Linked DNA regions of Homo sapiens. The protein of the gene in region 3 interacts with the protein of the main gene of each other region in a pairwise test. Each region holds a gene or a part of one and is shown on either strand. Other genes may lie near its edges.

Region 1 (7,038 bases), on a different chromosome or scaffold from region 3:
GTAGAGATGGGCTTTCGTCATGTTGGCCAGGCTGGCCTCGAACTTTTGGCCTCAGGTGATCTGCCCGCCTCAGCCTCCCAAAGTGCTGGGGTTACAGGTGTGAGCCACCATGCCCAGCCCACTCCCACAGCCTTTAGATCAGAAGTGCAATGGCACCAGCCACACCACCTCTGCTTGTCCACCTGTGTGTTTCCTTAATGTAACCAGGAGACCCACAAAGTCCCAGTCCCTAGATACTTAATCCAACATGCCCTGAATAAATCCAGGCACTAGCATTGTTAACACCCGTTTTCCCCCCACTTGGGGCCACCTATGTACTAAGTGAGTCCCCCTTCAAATACATCCAAACAGCCTCCAGGCCATCCCAGAACATCTGGTCTACTTGTGTTGTAGTACCACTAGAGCAGCCCAGAAATAAGACGTTCTAATATGGCAATTCCAACAGCTTCTGTGCTTCCCTGGCATCCTTTACGCCAAGCGTGACAGAATGGCTATGTAGAAAGGACCCCTGGAAAAAGGAAGACCCCAGTTCTGTTCTGTGGAAAGGGAGTTCCCTTACCATTAGACAGGAGCTGATCTGCTCTAAGCTCATCAAACAGAAGAGCGTCGCCATAGCCTTCCTTCTGTTTCTCTCGGAACAGTTTATAGCAGGCACTGGGGCTGGCCAGGAGCAGCAGGAAGCCCTGGGAAACAGAACTTGGGTCAGAAGCCAGCTTTCTCAGCTGGACATGGTGGCTCATATCTGTAATCCCAGCACTTTGGAGGCCGAGGCAGGCAGATCCTCTGAGGTCAGAAGTTCGAGACCAGCCTGGCCAACATGGTGAAATTCCATCTCTACTAAAAATACAAAAATGAGCCAGGTGTGGTGGCATGTTTCTGTAATTCCAGCTACTCAGGAGGCTGAGGCAGGAGAATTGCTTGAGTCCGGGAGGCAGTGGTTGCAGTGAGCGGAGATCACGCCACTGCACTCCAGCCTGGGTGACAGAGCAAGACTCTCAAAAAACAAACAAAAAAAAAAAAAAACAAGAAAAAGCCAGTTTTCTCTCCAGAATCTTCCAAGATTCCCCAACAGAAGGCAAGGGTCAGATGTCCCTTCTCCAGACCCCAAAGCAGACCTTTTTGCCCTCATTCTTGTCATCTGTGGGGATGAAGCACATGAACTCATCCACGTGGCCAGTCATTAGCCAATCTGAGTAGAGCTCCACCGGCGCTTGGACCTGCTGGGCATAGAGGAAGTCTCGGAGGGTCTTACTCATGGCCCGGCCCTCTGCGCTAGAAGGAAGATGGAAAGAACAGCTCTTGAGCCAGTGTGGCCCAGGGCTGGTCACCCGCCACTTGGTGTCATGCTGCCTCCAGGGAGCTGGCCTCTGACCGTTGTGTGAAAGAGGCCGGTCCATAGCGGATGTGTTGGTTACGAATCCCTTACTCTGACCCCACTCAGAACAGAGCCTAGTGTTTCTAGACAGACAAGCCCGGGCACAAGTATCATTTTGGATTTATGGCCACCAAGAAATCCAACCACATATCTCTTGGAAATGACATCCTGGTGGACCAAATTTCACTTGTTTCAGTTTAAACCCTGGAATCAAAGAATAAATGGTTTATTCTCATCTTTAGTCTCCCACGTGAATCAAAAGCTCAAATGTCTTCAGTTTAAGAAATGGTCCAGTGTGTGTGACCTGCTGAGGTGCTATGGGAAGCAGGCGGGGCCAGGGGAACGACCATGGTCCCTTCCTTTCATTTGGAGGCGTCTGGCTTTGTGGCTCACCTGGGGTAAAAGCTGCTGCCAATGAGGACTCTGCCCAGCGGGTACTCTTTCCCTTGGACCTTGACAGGTGGGGACACCATCAGGTTCCCAATGGAATCCATGCTGGCCACTTTATGGTCCTCAGTGTCCTGGATCATGTAGCCAATACCAGGGCTCTGGGGGAGAGACCGAGCCAGGGAAGGGGTGTTAGTAGGGGATGGCTTTAGGCCCCAGTCTTATCCCTAAATCCAGGCTCTCAGGTAGACTTCCACGTCCCCTCCCCCCTCAGAGGCCACCTGGGCCCTCTCCCCACTTGGTGCCCCATTATTTCTAGGCAGGCCCCAGGCCTGAGAGATTGGACTGAGCTCAGATTAGCCAAACCAAGTTCCACACCAGTGAGTACTTCATGGGGAACTCATCGAGATCGGCGGCCTGAGGTGTGTCGAGGATCAAGGACGTTGTCTTGTGGGGAGCCTGGGTGTAGCAGAAGGCCATCTCATCCTGGAATGGAGAGGAAGACAGATTGTTTGCCAGTCACACATCTCCCCGGACCCCATTTACGGAAAAGGTACGGTAAGAACCCCCTTCCTTCCTGCCAACTCCTGCTCAACCCTCAACACCCAGCTCAGATATCACCCCTTCTTGAAGGCTCTCCGATCCCTCTCTCCCCTACTCTTCAGGTTTAAGACTTGAGCATCCATGGCCAGGTGTGGTGGCTCACGCCTGCAATCCCAGCACTTTGGGTGGCCAAGGTGGGTGGATCACTTGAGCCTAGGAATTCAAGACCAGCCTGGGAAACATGGTGAGACAGTCTACTTAAAACAAAACCAAAAAGTTAGCCAGGCATGGTGGCTCATGCCTGTAATCCCAGCTACTCAGGAGGAGGCAGAGGCTGCAGTGGAGCTGAGATCGCGCCACTGCACTCCAGTCTGGGCGAAAAAGACTTGAGCATCCAGATTCTTCCTTTCTTCTTTCGTAAAGAATCCATTAACAAGCCTTACTGGCTTACATTCTGAGTCAGCTCTGCGCTGGTGCCACTCAGGAAGCCACCGTGTCTCCACCCTATGCCACTGTGATGCCTTCCAGTTTCGCTTCTATTCTTGCCTACTCTTAAGATCTGTTCCCTACATCTTAGCCAGAGGGGTCTTTTGAAAACCTGAACTATAACCTTTCATTCCCGATTCATGCTTTGAGTGTCTCTTGTTTGTCCTTAGCTTAAAAGGTACCTTAACCAGGAGGTAGCCCTGCCTTTCACCTTTGTTCACTGTGATCTGTCTGCATCAGCCTTCTTCAAGACCTCCAAGCACAACCCCAGATTTTTTTTTTTCTTTTGAGACAGTCTCGCTCTGTCATCCAGGCTGGAGTGTAGTGGCGTGATCTAGGTGCACTGCAACCTCCGCCTCCTGGGTTCAAGCGATTCTTCTGCCTCAGTGACCAGAGTAGGTGGGACTACAGGCGCGCGCCACCATGCCCGGCTGATTTTTGTATTTTTTTAGTAGAGACAGTATTTTGCCATGTTTTCCAGGCTGTTTTAAAACTCCTGACCTCAAGTGATCAGCCTCCCAATGTGTTGGGATTACAGGCTTGAGCCACTGCACCCGGCCAGGAACTCCTTTTAATCCTGGCCACCCCTGCCCCAAATCTCTGCATGGCCAGCTCCTTGTTTCCTTAAGTTTCATTTGCAGATTTTCCCAACTATTCTTAAACTGCCTCATTTGGTCTAATGAATCACTGTATCATCTCATTGTCTAAATTTCATAGCACTTAAAAGTTCTATCCTTGCTAACATGGGACAGCATATGTTCCAGTTTATCTCTGGTGCTCAGGATGGCGTGCCTAGCATGTGATGATCACTCATCTGCAGAGGACAGAGCTCTAGAACCGAAGGCTGACCGGGGCTCTAGACTTGGTGCTGTGCCAGAGTCAGGCGGGACCCCAGGGCAGTGGCCCAGCTCTCACAGCCTTAGCCAAAGGTATCAGAGCCTTCCGGGGCCTGGGGGTTAGGGTTCTGTGGTCTTGAACACGTGTCCATTCTGGAATGGGAAGGAGGCTGGACTCTAACTATTCCTTAGTGGCCATGACTCAGGCAAATCCTCATCTGAGCCTCCACTGAAGTCCTAAGAACAGGGCCGCCCCTATCAAGGCTTCGGTCTTTAAGGTTAACCAGAAGCCTGTGAAGTTCCTCTTAGGTGGCACATGCTGAGTCTCCCCACCCCTCCCCGACAGGTGGGTTCCCAGGTGGGGTGTTACCTGGAGCCACCTGCCCAGGCGGTTGGGGTCCTCATAGACAGATGCCACCTGGCTGTTGCTCTTCTCACTCAGCTTCGTCACTGTGTCCACAAAACCCTGCAGCTGCAGCTCCCTGCCATGGGAGAGAAGCCAGTTCTGGGAAGGCTTTCGAAGGTCCCTTACTGGTTATGACCTCCTTGTGCCAAGAGAGGAAGAACACATCCTTCTCACCAGGAGAGGTTACATCCCTGCCCGTGAGGTCGACAGAGCAACCATCCCTGACCTCGGCACAAGCCAGAAGCTCAGAGCCCATCTTGTCTGACACTACTCAGCTTTGCCCATGGCAGAGCCAGGTTGGGAAGTGCCAGTGGCGGCCCCTTCCCTGGTAGCCAAGGCCTGCTCTGTTTATACCCTTCGGTCACATTCTGCAAGTACCCTTCCTTTCGTTCTGTCACCCAGGCTGGAGTGCAGTGGCATGATCTGACTCACCGCAACCTCCACCTCCTGGGTTCAAGTGAGTCTCCTGCCTCGGCCCCCCACAGTAGCTGGGACTATACGCCTGCCACCATGCATGGTTGTCATTTTTATATGTGTGGCGTTGGGTGGGTCTTGAGCCCTGGGGTCTTCAAGCCGTTGTGCACAGCATCAGGCTCACAGATCTACAGTGGCCATCCCTTCCTTGAAGGGAAACAGCAGTGTGTGAGGCTGATGTTAAGACCACTCATCTGGCCGGACGCAGTGGCGCACGCCTGTAATCCCAGCACTTTGGGAGGCTGAGGCGGGCGGATCACCTAAGACTGGGAGTTTGAGACCATCCTGGCCAACATGGTGAAACCCCATCTCTACTAGAAATACAGAAATTAGCTGGGCGTGGCAGTACATGCCTGTAATCCCAGCTTCTCGGGAGGCTGAGGCAGGAGAATTGCTGGAACCCTGGAGGTGGAGGCTGCAGTGAGCCAAGATCACACCACTACACTCCAGTCTGGGCAACGGAGCGAGACTCCATCTCAAAAAGAAAAAATAATAAATTATCTTAAACAAACGGAACAAACAGGTCCTCAAAAGTTGGAGGTCAGCAAGGCCCTAATATTGGGAGATATTGAAATTGGGACTGTAGTCCGGCTTCAGGTCCAAAGCTCATGTTGCTACTAATAGAATACAGCAATGTAACTACTGGCATAGCACATTCATAGTATCTATGCTACTGCTCCAAAGAACCTATTTCTTGGGTCTATGCAAAGCCACAGGGAGCTACCAGCCTGACAAGGTCTAGAACAGTCTGACGCTTACTGGGGGAAGGGTGTGTCGGCTCAGTCTTGCAGGTCATATGCAGCTATATGGGGTCAAACCATGCCTGAATATCACACTGTATGGAAGACTTGGGTTTCTTTGAAGAACAAGTAGATGCCTCCTGTGAGTGAGAAACCCGTCTTCAAATACTCGAGATACCACATCTCTCTGCTTTATGTCTTTTGTATCTGCCATCAGCAGAATCCCATCAGACTTTCTGAGATTTTACCTTCTCATCCTGAAGCCTGCTATTCCTCTGAGGACCACACTCCCCAGGAGCCCTGCCCTGGAAAAGCTGTCTGGCTTCTACACCCACGGAGCCTGGAAGAGGGGTAGAAGTCTTTTTTTTTTTTTGAGATGGAATCTTATCTGTCACCCAGGCTGGAGTACAGTGGTGCAATCTTGGCTCACTGCAACCTCCGCCTTCTGGGTTCAAGAGATTCTCCTGCCTCAGCCTCCCGAGTAGCTGGGATTACTGGGGTGCACCACCATGCCTGGCTAATTGTTTTTTGTATTTTTAGTAGAGACGGGGTTTTACCATGTTGGCCAGGCTGGTCTTGAACTCCTGACCTCAGGTGATCCGCCCGCCTCAGCCTCCCAAAGTGCTGGGATTACAGGCATGAGCCACCACACCCAGCAATTTTATTTTTTGTTTTTGAGACAGTTTCGCTCTTGTTTCCCAGGCTGCAGTGCAGTGGGGCTATTTCAGCTCACTGCAACCTCTGTCTCCTGGGTTCAAGTGATTCTCCTGCCTCAGCTTCACTGAGTAGCTGGGACTACAGGCATGCACTACCACATCTGGCTAATTTTTGTATTTTTAGTGGAGACGGGGTTTTACCATGTTGGCCAGGCTGGTCTCGAACTTCCGACCCTCAGGTGATCCTCCTGCCTCGGCCTCCCAAAGTGCTGGGATTATAGGTGTGAGCCACCACACTGGCCACCTTTTCCTATTAGTGTTTCCCATCCCTGCTAGAGCATTCCATCAGCATTATCCTTTGCCTCCTACCTTAAAAAAACAAAAAAGCCTTCACCTAAGGAATTTGCAATAAAGGGCAACGTGGTGGTAGTAATCTGGAGGCGGCCGGTGTGGAGCGAGTGGGGCGGGGGTGTCCTACCTGCGGACCAATCCCAACTAAAGGCTGCTCCTGCCACCCTGGCTTGAGCCATGCTGTGTCTAGACTGGTCTTCCACCTTTTATCTGTACCTGACTTTCCATGTGGCCAGAGTGATCATGCAGACAGAACCCTTGGCTTCCCACTGGTTCTGCCTTCAGGATCCTATCTCCTTTTCTCCCTAGGCATGTGGCTACATAGCTAGAGACTGCTCCTGGATTCCCTGAAGCCGGACGTGGCCCCGTGCGTGTTCAGGATTTTGGCATGTGAGAAGTGGTTCAGGAGACTTCCAGACCACTAGCAGCAACCATAGGTTGCAGTGTCCAAATCTTGGCTCTTTCTCCCTCCTGGGGCCCGGGCCTGGACCTAGGATGTGTGCACTCAGCCTCCAGAGAGGAGGCAGCCACCCCAGGGGAAAGCATAACAAGACTGAAAGGAACCAGGGCCCCTAAGTGGCAGTGGGCGAGCAGTACCATCTTCCTGCAGGCATCCAGGTGACAGAAAGCTTTCACCACTGTATTTAGAGTAGGTATGGCCCCAGCTACCTCACCGTAACACCCAGGGCCCACAGGGCTCTGCTCTTTTCACCCATCCCCACACCGCCCCTTCCTGGGCTCACACCTGTTCTCTGGCTCCGTAGGAGCTTCATCGTCCCTGGGA
Region 2 (2,875 bases), on a different chromosome or scaffold from region 3:
TCTATTTTCTGTTTAAGCATTAGTTTGAGAGTATACTTAACTGTGACATACATAGCAGAGTCCCAGAAGAAAGAACTGACTACTAACAAATTGAAACAAGTACCCTTCAGGGGACCGTGGATATAACCTGACTCCTTCAGTGACAAAAATCAAGGTGAGAACAACCCAAAATCCCAAAATAAGGATTACTAAATTAAAATAGGCTCTATCATACCCTATCGCTACCACCACATAAAGGACTAAGACTGTAATAGTAAGGACCTCTAAGCCAATTTCCTGATGTTCCAAAAAACATGCTAATCTTTCTGATCTAATTCCTACTTCACAAAAAGGAAAATTGAGAAAGAGGATTTATGGATTCCAGGAAGAGCTTCCACTAGTGGAATATAAGTTATAGGGCTAATCAAAACAAAGCATAAAATAAAAATCAACACATTCCTAAGTAACTACTCACACATATTTCATTTCCATGGGTACGTAGAAGCAATCAAAATAAGTCAGAAGACAGCAATTTAAATAAGATTTATTTTTTTAAAGGTGGTTATTTTTATTTTTTGCAATGCCACAGTTATAGGAGTGTATGAAGAGGTAACATGTCTCCTTTTCCTTAACCATGTTTTTTTTTTTTTAACCTTCTGCACAAAGGTAAAAGTTTTTGTTAATCTCATAGTTAATGGTATAAAACAGAGATTGGCAAACCTTTCCTCCAACAGGCCAGGTAGTAAATATTTTAGATTTCACAGACCACATATTTTTTTCTTTTATAACTCTTTAAAAATGTAAAAATCATTTTTAGTTTGCACCATACAAAAACAGACTGGGCCAAATTCGGCCCGTGGGCAGTAGTTTGCCAACCCCTGGTATAAAATATCTACTTTGTCTTGTCAGAGAAATTGCTGTCCTTAGGCTTCTAGACAATCTGCTGCCTGAAGTCAAGTGGAGAAGGGCCTTATTTACAATTTAATGTGGTTTGTGACAGAAGTAGAAATGGAGAGCTTCTGCTCACTTTTGACTCTCCCAGTTTTTCCATTCACTCATTCATTCAATAAATTTGTTGAGCACCTACTATGTACACTCTTAAATATCTTGGTGTTAGCAGAAATTTCCAGTGTTTCTTCCTTAAAAGGGTGATTTCTCCAGTTTCTCCAAACCAGGAATTATTTCTTAATACTCATGTTTTATGGAAAAATCAGGATTAAAATCTCTACCAGCACACAAGAGGATACATGATTATACAAAATGAATCTAGCCAACAATGATATCCTTGCACCCAATAGTGACACAGCCTAGATGAGGAAAATATGTAACTATCTCTATTTTAAAAGATACCTCTTTTCCTCCCACAGGCTGAAACTTTCAAAAAAAAAAAAAAAATCAGATCTAGAACACCCCGCAAGTAATTTCTTCCCATTTTCCTAGTTTTGCTGCCATGTTAACATAAAATCTGGATCCAGGTAGGCCTCTTCATTAGCTTTCTATTTCAGCCATAAAACAATACTACACTTACAGCTGAATACTGACTCCAAAGCAATGTGCATGCCCACATTTTATCTCAGGGAGGGATTGATTATGTTTCTGCTCCTTCAGAATGAAAACTGTTAGCTTTCTGAATCCTATTTATCCAAGGTGAGGGAAGACTTTTTAAAGTGGCCAAAAGGAGCACAGGACTTGAGTATTAAAATATAAAGGTGGCCCCCATTCCAGATCTTTGGTACAGTCATCAACTATAATAATCTGATTGCCCACCCCACCAAAACAGCACATTTTGTAATTAGAAGTGATTTTGATTTTCCTTTTGACCATGTAAACAATAGGGGAAATGCCTTGGGAAACTACTTTGCAATGCACTCTCATTTCTCTTAAATACACAACCAGTTCTCCCTTTGATAAGTTCATGGGGGGAAAGAATAGAGTAGGCCAAGGTTATCGCTTTCGCTCCCCTCTCTGTGTCCTTTTTTTTTCCTTTTCCTTGCGCTCCTGCTTGGCTAGTTTGTCTCTCTCCCTCTGCAGCTTGTCCTGTTCCTTCTTCCTTTGGGATTCATCCCGAAGTGAGTCTCGCTCCAGTTTTCGGGCATTAAGGACATCTTCCACATTGGTGTTTCGGAACAGAACTACAGGTGAGTTAAGGGATTAGGGTACAGGTCACACAGATCACACCTACTGCTGCCTTTCCTCATTCTACTTATCCTCTCTCCACCTGCTGAGTCCTGAATCGTCTTTATCTATTCCTGGTTTTTTAAAAAAAACCCTTATGTTTATCCTTGGTCTAACAGAGAAATCCTAAAGCTATATTACAAAAGTTTTAAAATGTCCTTTGGAATAAAACTCTTATTCAGATTTACCTAAATCTGAATTTTAAAATATTTTACCAAAGAAACAAAAAAATAAGAAAACAAAATATTTCATCAAAATGAAATTTCATTCTAGAATAAGTACTTATATCATTCAATGGCAGAATATTAGAGAATCTAGGCTAGTTTTGGTGAACAGAGTAGTAATGTAACTGACTAAATGTTTATGTACTTGGCTCTGTTAAAATGCCTTAAAAGAGTTAAATAAGATGTTTAACCTTATTAAACTTTATCAATTTGCTTTTGTTCCTAGACTACTAAAGCTGAAGTGAAAACCACATTCTAATAACCATACACACTGAATCTATAAGAGATAGAAAATGAGTTTAGGCTGGGCGCAGTGGCTCATGCCTGTAATCCCAGCACTTGGGAGACTGAGGCAGGTAGATCATGAGGTCAGGAGATCGAGACCATCCTGGCTAACAGGTGAAACCCCGTCTCTACTAAAAATACAAAAAATTAGCCGGGCATGGTGGCACACACACCTGTAGTCCCAGCTACTCGGGAGGCTAAGGCAGGAGAAT
Region 3 (7,038 bases):
AAGTAAATAATTCAAATTTTGTTATTTGCATAGAAAATAAACATCATTGATTGAGAAGGAAAAACAAACTGAAAAGTAAGCTTTCAGATTTCTCTCTCTTCCTGATTATCAAATAAACTCAAGTAATGTTGTCTAAATCAAAATATGAAACAACTTTTCAACAGAGACTTACGTCTTTTTCCTAAATCCTACCCTTTCCCACACAATTTTTTGAAGAACAGGATAATGGTAGCTCTATATATACAAATTATCTCTTTATTCTTCTACCTAAATGAGTGAATTTTGATATGAAAACAATAAACACATATAGAGAAAAAATAAATTAGTCTAACCTTTAAGAAAATATTCATAAAAAGCTCAAATTGCAACTAAATTTCCTAATCCAGGAAGACACATGCACAAATCACCATGGCTTTTCTAACTTAATGTATACTGGAGTCACTTATTCTACTAAGGACCCATATTTGAGGGTCTTACCATCTAACGAACTGATTACCATATACAACTGACTAGATGACGTGCAAGGCCAAACAGAATTAACTATAAATTCTGGTCTGCTGCCAACAGTATCTGCAGTTCCACATACTTAGTCTCTCTTAGTAATCACCCTTCTTTAAAGAGAAACTAAGATGAGCGCTGATGGAGGGGGGTGTCCAATGGTGTACAGTAAGTTTGAGACTCACCAGGAACTTATTTTACACTATGAGAAATGACATGAAGATAATGGCATTTTGAAGAATCCTAGCATTTCCTGAAAGGCTATGTAGCTATCTTGAGTCTATTTTCCATTTGTATTTCCCTTTCTTGATTCTTCTTTTTAAGTGGTTAGTTCCCTAATCTTGAAGTTCTCTACTTTCTTAAAATTATTTGTTGTTATTGTTGTTGCTTTAGTTTTTCCATTTTTCTGGAAATCCTGAACTGTATTAAGCTAGGGTTACCTTTGCAGACTTCCCCTCTAGATTTAGATAATCAACTAGCTTTTTAACCTAGTATAAATATCTACTCAACTAGACTAAATTTCCTGAGAACTAGGATCTCCAGTGTATGATAGATACATAGTAGGCACTAAATTATATCTGTTGTAAGAATGAATGAATTCAGTATCATTTAAAGGGTCTACACCTAATTTAATTAGTCTCCACATTTATCACCAAAAAGTAGCAGCTAGTAGAAATGATGAGTTTACTGAAGTGTCACAACAACCTGTTATGTTCCAGAGACTATGGCAGGCATTCACTTTATAGGATTATTACATAAGTTTCTGGCTTTAAAGAGTTCAGAGTCTATCAGGGAACCCAGATCAGTAAAAGAACAATGGAAATACCATTGATATTCATTGATAGAGTGATACCAGTGAAACTTAAAATAAAATTCAACATAAGTTTTATAACCTTAAACTGACAGATACCTGCATTTCTTCTGCACATGTTCATATCTGCAACCTGTCTCCATGCGTTAGTGGTGGGATCATATACTTCAACACTTTTTCGTACTAAAGGGCCATCATGACCTCCTACAGCATACAATAAATTGTTTAACACACCAACACCTATAAAACACAACCAGCCAAATAGAGGGGCAAAAAGAACAAGAGATTTATATCATATTAGGTTTATTTAAATGACTTGTAACTAAAACTTTCGAAGTTATAATTCATAATAAAAGCAAGCTGATACTATAGCCTACAATTTAAGAAATGGAAATCAATACAATTGATGATTAAATAAGCATCTCAACAAACTATTATTCTGAAAAAAGAGGCATGTCAAACAGAATAAAAATATTAATAACATGTAGGTGAAACACAGGGAGGGAAAAAGTCCTTTAATGTAATCCTTTTGAAAACAATATCCATAGTAAAATAACCGCATATTAAAGCACAAAATTTTAAGAAATATACATGAAAAGACTTGATTATTAAGCAAGTTCCCCAATAAGCACTAAAAACAAAAAACTAAAAGGAGTGCTAACAACTTGAATATATAAATGAAACAGAAATGTCTATGGCACTTAGACATTAAATTTTAAAGTAAAATTACTTTGTAATTACTCCCATTACCTGCACAATTCAAAAGACATTTAGCAGTGCCACTAAAATCAGCATATCATATATTTTCAGATAATGTAAAGTGATGCCACTGAATCATTTTACTTTAACTATTTTCCATCATTTTTGTGCTTCAGTTGCTAAAACAGGTTCACATGTACCTGCTCCACTCCGCCTGGTGCTCATTTCTGCTATATAGGTCCACTCATTTGTTGTAGCATTATAGCATTCTACTGTGCTAAGACACTGACGTGATGCTCCATCATAACCTCCTACAGCATAGAGCAAACCTACACATAAAATCACATAGAAAGCCAAATTTATTAAAAAACAAACAAACAAAAAACACTAATTTTTCAAGCCAGAAAATATTAATATATTTTCCTTCATGGCAGCAGAGTTTCCCCTTAAAGTGCTGCTGATTTTTATGAAATATATTAGGGTCTTGCCTAATGGTGACAGATGGGGTAATCAAATCATGTTATGAAGATCTGCAGGGTATAGCTGATGATGTTAATTTTATACTTTCATCAATAATCTGATAAAATAGCACACTCATTATATCTTTAGGTAACACTATTTGATAAGTGAACAACATCCTGTAAGACAGAATTAAATACCAAAGTTATCTTAGGAAATCGGAAAAAAGGTTAAATCAAAAATTAATAACAGAATGCAATGCAATATTACTTGGCATTAAAAAGGCATGAAGTACTAATAAATGCCTCAGTATAAATAAACAAATCTTGAAAACATCACCCTAAGCCAAAGAAGTGAGTCACCAAAGATCACATACTGTATGACTAAAATATTCAGAAGAGGCAAATCTCTAAGTGATAGAAAGTAGACTAGCAGTTGCTGAAGGTTGGGTAAGATACGAGTAAGAGCCAAGGGAAGCAGGATTGCTTTTAGAGGATAATAAAAATGTTTTAAAATGAATTGCAGTGATGGATGCACAATGAACTGTATACATGAAATGGGTGAATTGTATGATGTGGATTATATCACAATAAAGCTGTTTTTTTCTAAGTGCACAGATTACACCTACGATGAGGAGGGGGTGGAAACCTGCAAATTTGCCCAAGTCAATTAAAAAAAAATAATAATAATAATACTTAGAGCCTTCCTTAACTTCTGTTGGGAGACAAAGTAGGATATAAATAAATAACTGTGGCAATCCATCCCTTAACAGCCCTTCTCCAGATATAAAATTACACATTTATGTCACCTGAATTGTTCCCCCAAGCAACTGTTAAAATCAGTTGACAGTCTTATACAGCAGCAGTCCCCAAACCGCAGGCCATGGACCGGTACCTGTCTGGAACCTGTTAGGAACCGGGCTGCACAACAGGAGGTGAGCGGCAGGTGAGCAAGTATTACAGCTGAGCTCTACTTCCTGTCAGATCAGCAGCGGCATTAGATTCTCACAGAAGTGTGAACCCTATCTTGAAATGCACATTTGAGGGACCTAGGTTGTGCACTCCTTATGACACTCTAATGCCTGATGATCTGAGGTGGGAACAGTTTCATCCCAAAACCATCCCCCCAACCCACCCCTGTCCATGGAAAAATTGTCTTCCACAAAACCAGTCCCTAGTGCCAAAAAGGTTGGGGACTGCTGTTATATAAGTCAAACACACACGTGTTATATAAGTCAAACACACACAGTTATATAAGTCAAACACACACACACACACACACACACACACACACACACAGAGAGAAAGGAGGAGGGATAAAGGGAGGGGGATAGAGAGGGAGAGAAAAGGCTTTATATAGGTTGATTTATATAGAGAAGCTAATTTTAAAAAGAGGATAACTGAAATTTTACAGTAATTACGACTTTTCTTTTTAAAATGATAATTAGCTTGCCCATTCAGAAAACTAAAGTTGAGATTACTGGAAGAACCACTCTCAAGGATCAAAATGCCACATGTACCTGAAAGAACTGTCAACACCTACCTCCAACAACACCCACACCAACACTGCTCCTCCTTGTATTCATGGGAGCTACATGAAACCACTCATTAGACTTTATGTTGTATGCTTCCACAGATGACAAACCTATAATAAAGCACAATAGTCTTCATTTCCTTCTCTAAAAAATGTCAATAGTTCATATATATGGAAAAATACTTCAGGTATGTTATACTGGGCTAAAATTAAGAGAAGAAAATGGTGGAACATAAACACAGCAATTACATGAAAAACAGGTACAGCTTGTTTTCCAGAAGGCTCCTACCTAAGCTACTGATATTTATAAGCTTTTAAAATTTGATGACTGATACTGATGCATAAGAAAGAAAATTTATATACTCACCACTCATATCATTTAAGGAAATTCTTGATAAAATTTTAAACTTATCTTTAAATACCAGTTAAAACCTCACATGTTGTAATCCCAGCACTTTGGGAGGCCGAGGTGGGCGGATCACAAAGTCAGGAGATTGAGACCATCCTGGCTAACATGGTGAAACCCCGTCTCTACTAAAAAATACAAAAAAAATTAGCCGGGCGTGGTGGCGGGCACCTATAGTCCCAGCTGCTCGGGAGGCTGAGGCAGGAGAATGGCATGAACCCGGCAGGCGGAGCTTGCAGTGAGCCGAGATTGCGCCACTGTACTCCAGCCTGGGCGACGGAGCAAGACTCCATCTCAAAAAAAAAAAAAAAAACACAAAAAACCTCACATGTGCCCTAATGTTGCCACAATTTATTCCATAAACATGACTACTACGTTAATTTTAGCAGCAATGTAGAATAAATGAAAAGGAAATTACCTGTACTCCCATCAAAGCCTCCCACAGCGTATAATAATCCATTTAACACAGCAGCTCCCAAAGTGCTTCTCCGGTCTCTCATGTTAGCAACGCTGGTCCACTGGTCCTTCACAGGGTCGTAGGAATCTACAGTGCGAACTCTTAATGAGCCATTAAAGCCACCAACAGCAAAAACAAGTCCAGCCATGTAGACCATGCCTGCAAAAGGAGTACAGCATTTAATGATCAACATGCAACTCAACTACCACCAATATCCAAAGATTGCTTTCTGATAAATCTATAGCTGTTGTCAGAACATGCTACTCTTAGGAGGAGCCTGATTAAATAAATCCTTGAAAATGCTATTCATTTGCAAGAACATCCAATCACTAAATTGTCTTTCTTTCTAAGGTTATTATTATTATTATTTCTTCCTTTCTTTATTTTGAGACGGAGTCTCACTCTGTCGCCCAGGCTGGAGTGCAGTGGCGCCATCTCAGCTCACTGCAAGCTCAGCCTCCCGTGTTCACACCATTCTCCTGCCTCAGCCTCCTGAGTAGCTGGGACTACAGGCGCCCGCCACCACACCCAACTAATTTTTTGTATTTTTAGTAGAGATGGGGTTTCACTGTGGTCTTGATCTCCTGACCTCGTGATCTGCCCGCCTTGGCCTCCCAAACTGCTGGGATTACAAGCGTGAGCCACTGCACCTGGCCTTCTTTCTAAGGTTATTAAAAAATGCAATGGCATGGGCTAAAGTACCATGTTGACTCTTGGTTTTTTTAAATATCAATTTACAAGCTTAAATAATGAGCCATTATTTTCCAACTACTTGAACCTGTACTCACCTCCCATAGCTTTCAATTTTGGATCTTCTAGTGGATATTCTTAGAATGAAACTCCATACGCTTATAATTTATTTGCATAACGTATTCCTAGTTTATCATGTTAGTGGGCTAAATCAGGGGTCGGCAAATTTACAGCTACAGGCTAAATTTGGTCCAGCGAACTATTTCTGTAGAACCCATAAGCTAAGCATGGTTTTTATATTTTTAAATGGCTGAAAAACAACCAAAAGAGGAATAATATTTCATGACATGTAAAAAGCTATATGAAATTCAAATTTCACCATCCATAAATATAGTTTTATTGGAACACTGCCACACTCATTCATTTACATATGGCTGGTTTTGCACTATAGCAGTAGATAAGAAGCTGTGACAGAGACCATATAACCACAAAGCCTAAAATACTTATTCTCTGGTCCTTCAAGAGAAAGTCTGCTGATCCTTGGGCTAAAGAGATATTACGGAATCAGTGAATGGAGAAACTAGACTGCTAGACTCAGGTTTCAACCATCTTTTCACTTTTCTCAACTTTTTTCATGCTGCTGTCCTAATCGGACAGGCTCCTATCACCATCTACTCTGTTCTCTTTAACTCTGAATCCTCAGTTAAAGTTCCACATTCTCTATGATGCCTTCCCTGTCCACTTTAGCCTAAAAGGGATTATGTCCAGCTCCCGAACCCTATAGCAAATAACATCTATGTTGTGTACTTCAGGTTTAATAAATGTACCGTCTATAATATAATTACTTTAAATTGTTCAAATTTTTATTGTTCTTAGTTCTATAATGTTTATGTCCCTGTGCCAGCCTGAGGGCAGGCAATGTGGCTCACAGTTCTCTGAATCCCTGTAGGGAGAACTGGAATCACCAGATATGTTTGACGAGCTCAATGTTTTGCAGATGTTATCAGGCAAGAGATGTACCTCTGCCCCTTACTGTCTTAACCTCTGGTGCTTTATTCCCCCACCCCTGTAAAAATACACGGAAATGCAGTCCTCCATATGGCAACAAGACCTTTCCAGTTCAGATGAAGTTGCCTGTTTTGGCCCCCTGCTAGCACAGAATTTAACAGACATCCTAAGAGGGCCTGGAGACTCGTGAGCAGCAACATACCAGGCAGCATGTTTCAGCATGAAACAATCCTGTATCCCAAAATCATAACTAACTCCAGGGAATGTTCATTGTGGGAATCTTGCCCATTGCAATTTTCATTTTCCTTTCTCTACCCACAAAATAACACTACAAATATGCCATCTCTTAGAAGTAACATAGTATGCTTACCAAGGTTTAGAGAATTTTAGGTCACAGAGAGGAAGAAAATAAATGAATCAATCTATGAAGTGCCCCCTACCAAAGGCTCTGGGTCTGGAGAAGGGACTGAACTAAAA
Region 4 (7,051 bases), on a different chromosome or scaffold from region 3:
CCCCAGTTCAAGCGATCCTCCCACCTCAGCCTCCTGAGTAGCTGGGACTACGAGCACAAACCACCACCACCCCCGGTTAATATGTATTTTTTGTAGATACAGGGTTTTGCCATGTTGCCCAGGCTGGTCCCAAATTCCTGGGCTCAAGCGATCCACCTGCCTCAGCCTCCCAAAGTGCTGGGATTGTAGGTATGAGCCACCACAGCTGGCTTTGAATGTTCAATATCAATAGGCCCTTTGCAGAAGTTCTTATCGAAACTTTCCCCGCACAACCGTCTCTCATTGTACAATCAAAAAATGCATTCACACTGCCACCCAATACAAAAAATTTCAATAGTTCCATTTTCCAGATCTGAGACTGGAATCAGGGAAGAACCATTCCCCTCCAAATATGTCATTCTCCCCATATTCCACAAGCTGTGAGCTAGTTGTAAAGTTAATCGTCACACACTGTGTGAAAAATAATGGGAAAAAAGGTCAAGAAAAGATAAGTCAGCCAGGCACTGTGGCTTCCGCCTGTAATCCCAACATTTTGGGAGGCTGAGGCTGGTGGATCACCTGAGGTTAGGGGTTCGAAACCAGCCTGGCCAACATGGTGAAACCCTGTCTCTACTAAAAACACAAAATTAGCCGGGCATGGTGGCGCATGCCTGTAATCCCAGCTACTTGGGAGGCTGAGGCAGGAGAATTGCTTGAACCTGGGAGGCGGAGGTTGCAGTGAGCCAAGATCACGCCATTGCATTCCAGCCTGGGCAACAAGAGTGAAACTCTGTCTCAAAAACAATGAAAAGGTAAGTCTGGCCAACCGTGGTGGCCCACACCTATAATCCCAGCACTTTGGGAGGCTGAGGTAGGAGGATCGCTTGAGCCCAGAGTTTCAGAAAAGATAAGCCTTGTTAGTTAAAATATGTGAGGATATACACCTGCGGCCGCATGGATGGAATTAGAACTTTTTTTTTTTTTTTTTTTTTTTTTGATACTGAGTCTCGCTCTGTCACCCAGGCTGGGGTGCAATGGCATGATCTCAGCTCACTGCAACCTCCACCTCCTAGGTTCAAGCAATTCTCCTGCCTCAGCCTCCCGAGTAGCTGGGATTACAGGCACCTGCCACAACCCCTGGCTAATTTTTTTATTTTAAGTAGAGAGGGGGTTTCACCATTTTGGCCAGGCTGGTCTCAAACTCCTGACCTCGGGTGATCCACCCACCTCGGCCTCCCAAAGTGCTGGGATTGCAGGCATGGGCCACCATGACTGGCCATTTTTATATTTTTTTGTAGAGACGGGGTTTCGCTATGTTGCCCAGGCTGGTCTCAAACTCCCGGGCTCAAGCAGTCCTCCCGCCTCAGGCTCCTAAATTGCTGGGATTACAGACGTGAGTCCCTGCGGCTGACCTGGACCTCAGCTTTTACCCTAAGTGAGACAGAAGTCATGGGAGGACCCTGGGGCAGAAGAGTGACATGAGTTGATTCACATGTAAAAGGAATCCTTCAGGCTGTTTTGTGAGAATAAATTACAGGGGACAAAGGCAGATGATGTTACAAGACTAGTTTCTGCAAGTCTGCAAGGGTCCACGGCTGCTGTTTTGGTGTTTCTGACTTTTCTCCTTCATACACATGCCATAGAGTTCTCCTCCCTCACCCAGAACCTCAGATGGCTAGGTTCTTCTTTTTTTTTTTTTTTTTTTTGAGACAGAATTTCACTCTTGTTGCCCAGGCAACATCGTGCAGTGGCACGATCTCAGCTCAGTGCAACCTCCACCTCCCAGATTCAAGCGATTCTCCTGCCTTAGCCTCCTGAGTAGCTGAGATTACAGGCATGTGCCACCACGCCCAGCTAATTTTGTATTTTTAGTAGAGATGCGGTTTCACCATGTTGGTCAGGCTGGTCTCGAACTCCTGACCTCAGGTGATCCACCCACCTCGGCCTCCTAAAGTGCTGGGATTACAGGCATGAGCCACAGCGCCCAGCCTCAGCTGGCTGGGTTCTTGAGGGAGGTGGAAGTGGGCGATGGCTGCTGAGAGGGCATGTACCAGGGTCCAGCCCAAACAGAAGGTGCACAGGCTGGGGACAGAAGAGCTAGGGTATGGGTGTCGGTGCTCACAGTGTGTGAGCTTGACAGCACCTGGGACTGTCTTGGAGTGCCGCCGCATTCCCCATGAGTGAGTTTGTATTGTATATCCTGGGATGCTCCAGTCTGGATGGAATCTGCACGTGAGTTTGTGTGCCTTGCAAACAAACCTTCCCTGAGCACCTGCACTGTGTCTGGTCTTGTGCTGGGCGGGGTGCCCAGGGGAGGAGCCCTTAGCTCACCACAGTGATCAAGACATCCCTGGCCCTGCCCTCACAGGCTCACAGTCCACTGAGGGAGACAGACCTATCCCCAGCCAGGGACCCCCAGAGTGTGCCGGGCTCAGGTGGGGGAGCCCAGAGGGGGAACCTGACCCAGCCAGGGAAGGCAGAGGGGACTTCCTGGAGGAGGGGATGGTACAGTTAATCCTAAAAGGTCTTTCCCAATGTAACAGTTGCTCTGTAGGATGGATGCAGTGGCTCATGCCTGTAATCCCAGCACTTTGGAAGGCAGGAGGATCACTTGAGCCCAAGAGTTGGAGACCAGCCTGGGCAACATAGTAATACCCTGTTTCTATTACCAAAAAAATACAAAAATTAGCTGGACATGGTAACACAAGCCTATAGTCCCAGCTACTTGGGAGGCTGAAGTGGAAGGATTGCTTGAGCCCAGGCGGTTGAGGTTTGAATGAGCTATGATTGCGCCCACTGCATTCCCGGCTGGGCAACAGAGCGAGACCCTGTCAAAAACAAAACAAACAAACAAAAAAAACGTTGGTCTCCTGTATGACCAATGGATAAAGTAACCTTGACCAGTCTAATAACTCCCAGGCTGACCTGTAATCCAAGCCTTCTCTGTATGTCTGAGCAGGCAAAGCCCAGCTCCAGGGCTACCTCAACCCCCAGGCTGATCAGAAGCTTGGGTAACCTCTCCCAGTGTGGCCAGCGACCCCCCACCCTCCCACGTTCTGACCACTGTCCTGGGCAACTAGTGACATCTAGTGGGGGATTTTGTCCCAGTCTGACCTGGCCTGTAGGGGCCTTGGGCAGTCGGACCTGTGACCCACGCTTCCTAGCAGTGGCTGGACTCCTCCCCCTTCCCGCAGGTGCCCTGGCCTCTTCCCCTGCCCTCCTCACCTGCTCTGGCCAGTCTGACTCCTCCCTTCCCCACAAGGTTGGGAGGGAATGAAGGAGAGAGCGGGAAGGAGGAAGGGAGGGTGGCATTCCTGGGATTCCCTGGATAGGGGGAAGAGTGGGAGGGCCTTCCATGGGTGAGCAAGCAGAGAGGGCACCCCGTACCCCACCCCCAGCCCCATCATCGAAGCGGCCTAGGAGGACCTGGATTTGAAGACCATTGAAAATAAGAGATTAAACCGGTTGATTCCAGGCTACTGGTCAGACGAGGAAAGCAGCCCAGAGCACTGACCACAGGGGAAAACATCTCCGGGCATACTGGGAGCAGCTGCTGGGGGCCACTGGTCAGGCTGCGGGGGTCACTGGTTGGACTGGGAGAGGCCAGTGCAGGCCACTCGGACGGCACGCTTGGGGCCATTAGTTACACTGGGAGAGGCCATCGCAGGCCACAGGTTGCAGTGGGGTCCTCTGGTTAAAATCGACGATGCCAGCCCAGGCTGCTGGTCACAGTGGGGACGAGTCCCCAAGGCCCCTGGTCAGAATAACGAGGAGAAGGTCCGCGATTGCCTGGTGAGATCCCAGCTCGGGTCACTGGCTACGCTGGTCGATCAGGCCCCCCGCTGCAGGCGCTGGTCAGTAAGCCCGGACAGCTCTAGGCTTGGGGGCGGACGAGCCCCGAGCCTGGCCCCGTGCACTGGGAGGTCCGCTCCGGGCAGTGGGAGGTCCTGGCCCCGCGCCCGGGCATCGGGGGACGAGGGGGGCCTGGAGGGCGGGGCGGGGCGGGGCTGCCGGGGGCGGGGCCTCTGGCTCCCAGCCCCGCAGCGGCCGAGCTGCAGCCCGGGCTCAGTCTCCGCCGCCGCCGTGAACATGGAGCCCCCGGACGCACCGGCCCAGGCGCGCGGGGCCCCGCGGCTGCTGTTGCTCGCAGTCCTGCTGGCGGCGCACCCAGGTATGGCTCGGGCTGAGGGCAAGGTGGGACTGGGGAGAGGCCCCTGGGGACCCCGGGAAAGCGAGGAGAAAGGGCTTTACCCTGACCCCAGGAAGCAAAATGTGGGGACCCCAAGGAGGAGGGATATGGGAGTGTTGGAAGGTACGCCTTCCAGTGAGAGAGATCTGGGGACAGCCAGGCAGGAGAGCTGGGGATACCCAGGCGGTGGATCAGAGACAACCAGAGAAGTCAGCCCCCTTCCCACTCAGCACCCTGGAATCTGGGTCCCACCTGCCTCCTCCCTCAGACCCTGGAATCTGGGCCCCCAGCCCCTCTTTCCTCAGACCCAGGAGTCCAGGCCTCCAGTGGCTAGAATAGCTTCCCCCAGGGCACAGAGGATCAAAACCCCAGGGCTCTCTCCCTCAAAGGTCCTCAAGTTTTGAGAGGTCCAGGGACCCCTTAGAGAAGCGAGGACCATGTGTCCCCACACCAGCGATCCACATGTATTTAGGAGTTTCCAGAGTCCAGTATAAAGAACCCGCCTCCCTCAGGAAAGGGCTGGAGCACCAGCCCCGGGCAGTGACAGTGGAACAAAGTGTTTCCAAGTGACAGGCCCCCTTCCTGGGGCCTCAGCTACATTTACACACCTGCATGAGGATAGAAGGAGAGGAGGCCGGGGGCTGGGGGGTGGGGGTGGGGGTGCTGGGGACAGAGGGACAGAGAGATGAGAGAGATTGGGGAAGAGAGAGGAACTCTCTGCCTCCACTTGTCTGCAGATCAGACCCAGCCTTAGGCACCAGCCTGGACCCCGTCACCCCTCCCTGGGGACAGGCTGGGGCCAGAGGTGAGCGCTTGGGAATCCAGGCCCCTGGCACACTCATGGTCAACAGTGGGTCCCCAGGGGTAGGGCTGGGCCAGATTGAGCAGAGAAGGGAAGGGAGTTTCTAAGAAGCACTGAGAGCTGATGCCAGGATGCCAGCCCAGAGGGTGAGGGAGGGTGGTGGTTTTTCTACAATAACTACTCCACCAGGCCCCAGCCTCCTCTTCCCTCTGATCCCAGGAGTCCAGGTGCCCAGCTTCCCAAGATCCTGGGCCTCAACCTTATCCTTTTGCAAGATGACTCGACTTATCCCGTTTGCTGTTGTATCAAACTGAGGGGGGCCAAGAGGCGGCTGGGGGCTCTGGCTCCAGGCCGGGCAGGTCTCAGCCAGCCTGTCCCTCCCACATTCCTGAAACCTGCCCAGCCCTGTCCCCCCTCACCGCCCCCACACATCCATCCCGCCTAAGCTCCGGGCCCAGCCGCAGCCCACACCCCAGCCCCTCACTCATGGGAGAGCGGAAGAGACCCAGGGACTGAGTGGTGCAGGTGCAGAGAGAGGCAGAGACAGGGACAGAGATGGAGACCCAAGAGGAGAGACACACGCAAAGGTGGAGACCAGGATGGAGAGAAACATTTATCCATCATCACAGAGGTGGCCCTGCCCAGGGTGCTGGAGGCAAATGGCTGAGCCAGGCCTGGCCCTGCCCTGGGGGGTGGCGTGTGCTCTGTTGGGATAAGCAAAGGCTGGTGCAGTATTACCCCAGGAGTGTTCAGCGGAGGCCACAGGGCCCTGTGCAGCCCAGAGGAGGAGCCCTGAGCTCTGCAAGTGCAGGGAGAGATGGATTTGAGACCCAGAGATGCAGGGAGAAGGGATGGAGGGCGAAAGGATCTCAGGGAGGAGGGGCTGGGGCCTAGACTCCTGGGTCTGAGGGAGGAGGGGCTGGGGCCTGGACTCCTGGGTCTGAGGGAGGAGGGGCTGGGGCCTAGACTCCTGGGTCTGAGGGAGGAGGGGCTGGGGCCTAGACTCCTGAGTCTGAGGGAGGAGGGGACAGGGGCCCAGATTCCTGGGTCTGAGGGAGGAGGGGCTGGCACCTGGACTCCTGGGTCTGAGGGAGGAGGGGCTGGGACCTGGACGCTTGTGTCCTGGGGGAGAGGGGACCCTGTCTGGAGGGCTCTTCCTGTTGGTGTGGTGGATGATAGCTCAGTTGCTCTCTTGCAGATGCCCAGGCGGAGGTGCGCTTGTCTGTACCCCCGCTGGTGGAGGTGATGCGAGGAAAGTCTGTCATTCTGGACTGCACCCCTACGGGAACCCACGACCATTATATGCTGGAATGGTTCCTTGTGAGTGCTTGGGGCTGGGGGGCCTGGAGTCAGGGCACAGCAGGGCAGCAAAGGTTCATTCTCTCATCAGTGCCTAAGGCCTGTAGAGATCCACCAAGCCACACTCCTTGTTACAGATGGGGTCACTGAGTCCCACTGAGGGGAAGGGATCTGCAAGGTGCCCCGTGTCTAGGCACAGCCAAGTCTAGAATGACATTGACCTGCTCTGGACTGCGGGCTCTTGAGAGAGAGAACAGAGACAGACATCAAGAAAGCAGAAGCCAGGCACGGTGGCTCACGCCTGTAATCCCAGCACTTTGGGAGGCCGAGGCGGGTGGATCACGAGGTCAAGAGATCAAGACTGTCCTGACCAACATGGTGAAACCCCGTCTCTACTAAAAATACAAAAATTAGCTGGGCGTGATGGCATGTGCCTGTAATCCCAGCTACTCAGGAGGCTGAGGCAGGAGAATCGCTTGAACCTGGGAGGTAGAGGTTGCAGTGAGCCGAGATCGAGCCAATGCTCTCCAGCCAGGCGACAGAGCAAGACTCTATCTCAAAAAAAAAGAGGAAAGAAAATGAGAGACAATCGGGAGAGGGAGAGACCAAGAGGAGAAGGGATGGGACCGGAATGAGATGGAGAAAAGGAGACAGGAAAAATCAAGAACTGATAGGGAATGGGGGCAGGAGAAGGTGGGGAGGGACAGAGGGACCAGGGAGACCCATAACAAGAGGAAAAGAGGCAGAGCCAGGAGCTGCAGAGAGAAAGGACCCAGAGAGAG

What was found.
Region 1: the proteins of KLHL2 (region 3) and PADI6 interact in binary tests that used the Homo sapiens proteins (3 or more experiments, as listed by UniProt).
Region 2: the proteins of KLHL2 (region 3) and CCDC43 interact in binary tests that used the Homo sapiens proteins (3 or more experiments, as listed by UniProt).
Region 4: the proteins of KLHL2 (region 3) and BCAM interact in binary tests that used the Homo sapiens proteins (3 or more experiments, as listed by UniProt).

What each region holds. Positions count from the first base shown.
Region 1 is NC_000001.11:17,389,185-17,396,222, reverse strand, and holds part of PADI6 (inactive protein-arginine deiminase type-6), read right to left. Parts: intron 4,110-7,038; coding exon 3,998-4,109; intron 2,249-3,997; coding exon 2,141-2,248; intron 1,924-2,140; coding exon 1,769-1,923; intron 1,273-1,768; coding exon 1,116-1,272; intron 684-1,115; coding exon 560-683; intron 1-559. UniProt on the Homo sapiens protein: Structural constituent of cytoplasmic lattices, which plays a key role in early embryonic development. Cytoplasmic lattices consist in fibrous structures found in the cytoplasm of oocytes and preimplantation embryos.
Region 2 is NC_000017.11:44,676,933-44,679,807, forward strand, and holds the end of CCDC43 (coiled-coil domain-containing protein 43), read right to left. Parts: intron 2,118-2,875; exon of another isoform or gene 2,112-2,117; coding exon 1,924-2,111; 3' UTR 508-1,923; downstream 1-507.
Region 3 is NC_000004.12:165,308,537-165,315,574, reverse strand, and holds part of KLHL2 (kelch-like protein 2), read right to left. Parts: intron 5,023-7,038; coding exon 4,825-5,022; intron 4,112-4,824; coding exon 4,010-4,111; intron 2,647-4,009; coding exon of another isoform or gene 2,624-2,646; exon of another isoform or gene 2,499-2,623; intron 2,338-2,498; coding exon 2,209-2,337; intron 1,550-2,208; coding exon 1,409-1,549; intron 1-1,408. UniProt on the Homo sapiens protein: Substrate-specific adapter of a BCR (BTB-CUL3-RBX1) E3 ubiquitin ligase complex that mediates the ubiquitination of target proteins, such as NPTXR, WNK1, WNK3 and WNK4, leading most often to their proteasomal degradation.
Region 4 is NC_000019.10:44,805,057-44,812,107, forward strand, and holds the start of BCAM (basal cell adhesion molecule isoform 1 precursor), read left to right. Parts: upstream 1-4,046; 5' UTR 4,047-4,068; coding exon 4,069-4,150; intron 4,151-6,168; coding exon 6,169-6,290; intron 6,291-7,051. UniProt on the Homo sapiens protein: Transmembrane glycoprotein that functions as both a receptor and an adhesion molecule playing a crucial role in cell adhesion, motility, migration and invasion.